2 separate regions of the Homo sapiens genome follow, and region 1 is reported to be linked to region 2. The links are microRNA targets in miRTarBase. Many come from high-throughput screens and were not tested one by one. Region 2 holds a microRNA gene; the other region holds the end of a gene's coding sequence.
What was found. The annotated mature microRNA hsa-miR-6759-5p reads UUGUGGGUGGGCAGAAGUCUGU and lies in region 2 at 1,680-1,701, shown strand. An mRNA with a match to its seed (bases 2 to 7 or 8) in the 3' UTR can be bound and repressed. Matches are read on the target gene's strand: a 7mer-m8 pairs with bases 2 to 8, a 7mer-A1 pairs with bases 2 to 7 and ends in A, and an 8mer does both.

Region 1 (3,364 bases), not on the chromosome of region 2:
TACCATGACCCCCTCTACCTGGAGGACCAGGTGTCCCACCGGAGGCCACCCATTGGTGAGCGGGCAGAGGGGCCCAGAGCCATGCCAGGAGGGATGGCTTCCTTCACTCACACCATGGCTTCCCCCAAGGCTCGAGGAAGGGCTGGCCTGGTCGCAGGCTTTCAGCTTCACCTCCTCCTCCACACAGGGTACCGGGCCGGGGGCCTGCAGGACAGCGACACCGAGGATGAGTGTTGGTCAGATACTGAGGCAGTCCCCCGGGCGCCAGCCCGGCCCCGAGAGAAGCCCCTAATCCGCAGCCAGAGCCTGCGTGTGGTCAAGAGGAAGCCACCGGTGCGGGAGGTCAGTGTGGGAGGACGACAGGAGGGAGGAGGGCTCTGCTGGCTGGTGCTCCCCACACCCTCATGCTGTGCCTCCCCTTTCCCCAGGGCACCTCGCGCTCCCTGAAGGTTCGGACGAGGAAAAAGACTGTGCCCTCAGACGTGGACAGCTAGGGTCTGCTGCATCTGCCCCCTTCTTACCTCGTGCCCTGCAGGGCTCCAGGGCTATTTGGAGGGACCTTGGGCTGCACATCTGGCCTGCCTGCACCAGCTGCCTGGGCCCCACCCTCCTGACTCCTGCTGATGGTTAAGGGCCGGGAGCAGATGCTGCCAAGGCCACATGCAGGGATGCACCCACAATGTACCAAAGCAGGCTGGGCCCAGGGTTCTATTTATTGCCTTGCTCTGCCCTCTCCCTTCCCCGGTTGTGGGACAAGAGCCCTCCCTGAACCCCTGCAACCCTCCCTGAACCCCTGCAAATGAAACCAAACGTCCACCTGGGTGTGTTCATTCCTTCCTGTCCTTCAAAGTACTTGATAGCCTTTCATAAGGCCTGGCACATGTGTCCTGGTTGTGTGTGTGTGTGTTGGTGAGTGAGGTCAGGTTTGCGAGTGTTTTGATAAATAAATACATAAAGGGGCTCTGTTTCTCCTGATTCTTACTCCCGTTGCTCGCCTCACACCCTTGAAATGGGACAGCCCAGTCCTAGCCTAGGTCTAAGGCTGAAGGAGCCCAGTCCTCTGGGGGAGACAGAACCATTGACAGAGAGTTGTGATGCAGCACATGGTTTCACGAAGGAGCTTTTGGGGAGTTTTGAGAGCACTGATGGGAAAGTGGGGACGAGTCCAGAGGACTGGTCAGAACCCGAAACTTCAGTTAGGCCTTGGCAGGAAGGTGCAGCTATAGAGAAACCAGTGGGAGCACAGGCAGGAGGGGCTTGGGGCAGCACGTTAGTCCCATAGGGAGGTCGAAGCTAGGCAGAGGAGACCTGGGGAGGAGTATCTCCTCCAGGAGCCTGGAAGAAGGAGCCCCCTGGGGCAGCTCTGGGGACATTAAGTTCTGTAAACAGTCAGGTACCCGCAGGGGCACCATTGCACCTCTGAGGAGTGGCCACGAGAGGGCAGCAGTGTCTGGGATCTGGGCTGCCCCCGGCTTCCAGGTCAAGGAGGGTGGGGTTGGGAGACTGGCCAGAGCCTCGCCCTGCTGGGCCTGGCGGAACTCAGTGGCCCTCCCTGCTGCTTGTGGTCACTGGTCCTTGGCCTGCCCCATCCAAGGAGTCTCTGCTCTCCTGAGACCAAGGCTGTTTGCCTGGCTGGCTCCACTCCAACTCCTCCGATCCCTGGGGCAACCGGGGTACCCAGCTCTGCCCTCTACTGCCCCGGTGCTGGTCTCACCATGATGCCCGGGGTGCGCCCCTCTGCCACTGCTGCACCTGCTCCTCCTCCCTGCTTTTGATTGATTAAGCAAAGAGGTGGGTGAGAGTGTGGGATGAGAAGAGGGGAAATGGGGTGGTAACCTGGAGTGGCCCCAGAGAGTGTGGATTAACTCTTGGTGTGGGGATTATCCAGGTTTTATTTGGGGGAGGCTCTTAATCTGCTGCGGTGATTTAGCTTCTCACGTATAGGGGCTCACTGGCGTCCAACATGGCCTGCCTTTGCATCGTGGGGTTGTCTTATCGCTTCATTAATTCATTCAAAAATGAATCTTTATTGAGCCTCGAGCAGGTACCAGACATGTTGCCAGACACTGCAGGGATGCAGGCAGTAGTAACGGCTGGCGCCCAGAGTGTGGCTGCCCACGCAGACGCTGCTCTAAGCCCCTGGCATATATTAATTTAATTCTCATAACGATCTTTGGGGGGTGGGTACACACTAGTCTTACAGTCTCCATTTTCCAAACAGGAAAACAGGCACAGAGAGGGCAAGTGATTTGCCCAAGGTCACATAGCTAGTACATAGCAGAAGGGCTTGGAATCAGGCAGTCTGGCTCCAGAGTCTGTGCACTTAATCACTAAGCAGTACCAGAGTGAAGGAGATGATTCCTGCCTGGGAGGCAAGGACATGGAGACTAACATGTATGGAATATTTGTTGTGTGCCTGACCTTGTGCTGGGCATTTTACAGAGATGATTTCCTTGAATCCTCCCAACAAGCCTGTCAAATAGGGACTATATCCATTTTTTAAAACAGGTTCTCACTGAATCACCCATGCTAGAATACAGTGGAATGATCATAGTACACTGCAGCCTCGAACTCCCGGACTTAAGGGATCCTCCCACCTCAGCCTCCTGAGTAGCTTGGACTGCGGGCACTCTCCATCACACCTGGCTAATTACCATATTTTTTTGGTAAAGACGGGGTCTCACTATGTTGCCCAAGCTGTTCTTGAATTCTGGGGCTCAAGTGATCCATCTGCCTTGAACTCTGAAAGTGCTGGGATTACAGGCATGAGCCACTGCACCCACAGGGCTATACCCATTTTACAGATGAAAAACCGAGGCTTGGAGAGCCACAACAACTTGTGTACCATTGTGCTGCTTGTGAGTCGGGGACCCTGACTCCTGATGCACCTCTGCCTGGGAGTTGCGTTGATAGAGGCGGGCTGGCAGGATCCATGTACCCAAACCAAGAGAACAAAACCAGAGGGGCGCCGGGCACAGTGGCTCACCCTTGTAATCCCAGCACTTTGGGAGGCTGAGGCGGATGGATCACCTGAGGTCAGGAGTTCGAGACCAGCTGGCCAACATGGTGAAAACCTGTCTCTACTAAAAAAAACAAAAATTAGCCGGGCATGGTGGCGCGTGCCTGTAATCCAAGCTACTTGGGAGGCTGAGGCACAAGAATCGCTTGAGCCCGGGAGGCAGATGTTGCAGTGAGCCGAGATTGCACCACTGCACTCTAGCCTGGGTGACATAGCAAGACTCCATCTCCAGAAAAAAAAAAAAAATAACAAACCCAGAAGGGCATATGATGAATGGCAAAACAAAACGGAGTAAAAGAAAACAAGAGTTGGGGAGAGGCCTGAAGTCGTGGGGTGGTGAGGGAG
Region 2 (3,396 bases):
TGCACTCAAGCAATCCTCCCACCCCTACCTCCCAAAGTAGCATAAGCTACTGCATCTGGCCCCATTCTTTTACTTGCGTACTACTAACTTGCCCATAGCAGAAAGCTCTGAAATGTTCTGGAATTAGGAACTTCATATCCCTTTATTCTCTTTATTTTTTATTTATTTATTTATTTATTTATTTATTTATTTATTTATTTATTGAGATAAGGTTTCACTCTGTCACCCAGGCTGGAGTGCAGTGGCCCAATTACAGCTCACTGTAGCCTCTACCTCCTGGGCTAAAGCAATCCTCCCATCTCAGCCTCTTGAGTAGCTGAGACTACAGGTGCACGCCACCATGACTGGCTTTTTTTTTTTTTAGATGGAGTCTTGCTCTGTCGCCAGGCTGGAGTGCAGTAGTGCGATCTCTGCTCACTGCAACCTCCACCTCCCAGATTCAAGCAATTCTCTTGACTCAGCCTCCCAAGTAGCTGGGACCACAGGTGCACGCCACCATGCTCAGCTAATTTTTGTACTTTTAGTAATGACAGGGTTTCACCATGTTGGCCAGGATGGTCTCGATCTCTTGACCTCATGATCCACCCACATCAGACTCCCAAAGTGCTAGGATTACAGGCGTGAGCCGCTGCACCTGGCATTTCTTTTTTTTTAAAAAAAGAGACAAGGTCTTGCTTGCCCAGGCTGATCTAGAACTCCTGGGCTCAAGCAGTCCTCTCACCTCAGCATCCCAAAGTGCTGGAATTGTTGGCCTTTATTCCCTATACTTCCTATTTTGAGCCACTAAGCAGTAACCATTCAACTAAGATATCTTTGAAAATGACTGCTACCTTATATCCCTTCTCACCTTAGGCCTCTCTTCTGTGGAAACTCTGAAGCCGACCAGTTGGGCAAAATCTTTGAGTAAGTGACCAACATGGGAGAAAAAGATTTTCTATTCTGAGTCCTCTTTCTGCTGAACCCAGGATGGCAACTGGCTCTGCCCATGGGGATGGGAACTGGAGGACCCTCCTGACCAGAGTTCTCCTGTCCCCCACAGCCTGATTGGGCTGCCTCCAGAGGATGACTGGCCTCGAGATGTATCCCTGCCCCGTGGAGCCTTTCCCCCCAGAGGGCCCCGCCCAGTGCAGTCGGTGGTACCTGAGATGGAGGAGTCGGGAGCACAGCTGCTGCTGGTACTGGAGATGGCTGTGGGCACAGGGAAAGAAATAGAGACTGGGGAAAGAAATAGAGCAGTATGCAGGGCCCTGGCCACTGTGGTTAATGAAACTTGGTTGGTAGATGGGCTGTAGTTTTTATTACAGCTGCAAATAGCCACCCACAGAGAAGGATATAGAAGAGAACCCATCCTGGCTGGGCACGGTGGCTCACGCCTGTAATCCCAGCACTTTGGGAGGCCAAGGTGGGCGTATCACCTGAGGTCAGGAGTTCGAGACCAGCCTGGCCAACATGGTGAAACCTCGTCTCTACTAAAAGTACAAAAATAAGCCGGGGGTGGTGGCACACGCCTGTAATCTCAGCTACTTGGGAGGCTGAGATAGGAGAATCACTTCAACTCAGGAGGCGGAGGTTGCAGTGAGCTGAGATCATACCATTGCACTCCAGCCTGGGTGATAGAGCGAGACTCCGTCTCAAAAAAAAAAAAAAAGAAAAAAGAAGAAAGCTCATCCCAGGTATTGTTGTGGGTGGGCAGAAGTCTGTTTTCTTCATGGTTTTCTGACCTTTGCCTCTCCCCTCAGGAAATGCTGACTTTTAACCCACACAAGCGAATCTCTGCCTTTCGAGCTCTGCAGCACTCTTATCTACATAAGGATGAAGGTAATCCGGAGTGAGCAATGGAGTGGCTGCCATGGAAGGAAGAAAAGCTGCCATTTCCCTTCTGGACACTGAGAGGGCAATCTTTGCCTTTATCTCTGAGGCTATGGAGGGTCCTCCTCCATCTTTCTACAGAGATTACTTTGCTGCCTTAATGACATTCCCCTCCCACCTCTCCTTTTGAGGCTTCTCCTTCTCCTTCCCATTTCTCTACACTAAGGGGTATGTTCCCTCTTGTCCCTTTCCCTACCTTTATATTTGGGGTCCTTTTTTATACAGGAAAAACAAAACAAAGAAATAATGGTCTTTTTTTTTTTTTTAATGTTTCTTCCTCTGTTTGGCTTTGCCATTGTGCGATTTGGAAAAACCACTTGGAAGAAGGGACTTTCCTGCAAAACCTTAAAGACTGGTTAAATTACAGGGCCTAGGAAGTCAGTGGAGCCCCTTGACTGACAAAGCTTAGAAAGGAACTGAAATTGCTTCTTTGAATATGGATTTTAGGCGGGGCGTGGTGGCTCACGCCTATAATCCCAGCACGTTGGGAGGCCAACGCGGGTGGATCACCTGAGGTCAGGAGTTCGAGACCAGCCTGACTAACATGGTGAAACCCTGTCTCTACTAAAAATACAAAATTAGTCAGGCGTGGTGGTGCACACCTGTAATCCCAGCTACTTGGGAGACTGAGGCAGGAGGATCGCTTGAACCCGGGAGGCAGAGGTTGCGGTGAGCCGAGATCATGCCATTGCACTCCAGCCTGGGCAACAGAGCAAGACTCTGTGTCAAAAAAAAAAAAAGAATATAGATTTTTAAATGGCTTTTACTTTTATATTCGCTAAACTTTCTCAAACTGGATCCTGCTTATTACAGGAAAGAGTTCTTGGTTGTTTTCTCCTTGGCCCTATCCCTGATTTACCCTTAGAGCCACACCAGGGTATGTTGAGGTGATCCAGTATATGGACAGAGGAAGGGAAACAGCTAAGAATGACTCCAGCCCCCATCCTATGCACTCACAGAAGCTTCCCATATCCTCTTGGAGAGAGAGGAAGAAAGTTTTTCCTTTTATTCCTTATAGTCTGGCTCCCACTAAAATATGTCAAGGCATAAAGTCTTGCTATTCCATCAATTTTAGAGGATGTGACAAGGGGCCTTTCCTTTTTCTCAAACCAAAACGGTTACAGACCCTAGATATTCCCTAAGGGAGGAAGAGAAAGCTTAGAGAGAGCAGAAGAAAAGTCAGAAGGATCCAAAGTCTCATAGAAAGGCACTGGGGTTGGCTCTAGGATCCTTCTGATTCCGAAATCTCATTGCTAGCCAAACACCAAGGATCTGTAGGAACAAAGGGAGAGAGATAAGTATCAATTAATTCTCAGTCTCAAAAAGGATGTGTGTGAGGGAACTGGAGAATGTTACCTCTGTAAAGCTAAAGAAGAGTCCAACACCCCCTAGGATTTTCAGGGCTTCGTCTGAATGCTTAAGAAACTTTTCTCCACACATCTGGCATGTGGGGCTCTGGCTCTTGCAGATCTGAGGATAAAACGTGAAGAATGCAAAGTTGTGAATGTAAAGTTGCTAGTGACTAAT

Region 1: the mRNA of REEP4 is a reported target of hsa-miR-6759-5p. Seed matches in the 3' UTR shown: 8mer at 673-680.

Annotation. Positions count from the first base shown.
Region 1 is chr8:22,135,617-22,138,980 of GRCh38, reverse strand. It overlaps REEP4 (receptor accessory protein 4), which reads left to right. Exons shown (of 8, transcript NM_025232.4): 6 at 1-55; 7 at 188-342; 8 at 429-961. The coding sequence ends at 494. Among named protein-coding and RNA genes, the nearest start is that of REEP4, 4.6 kb to the left of the region's middle.
Region 2 is chr12:57,746,961-57,750,356 of GRCh38, reverse strand. MIR6759 (microRNA 6759) reads left to right here and starts at 1,675; the gene lies at 1,675-1,739. It overlaps TSPAN31 (tetraspanin 31), which reads right to left. Exons shown (of 6, transcript NM_005981.5): 5 at 3,226-3,339; 6 at 138-3,141. The coding sequence ends at 3,067. CDK4 (cyclin dependent kinase 4) reads left to right here. Exons shown (of 8, transcript NM_000075.4): 6 at 853-903; 7 at 1,040-1,175; 8 at 1,740-2,630. The coding sequence ends at 1,832.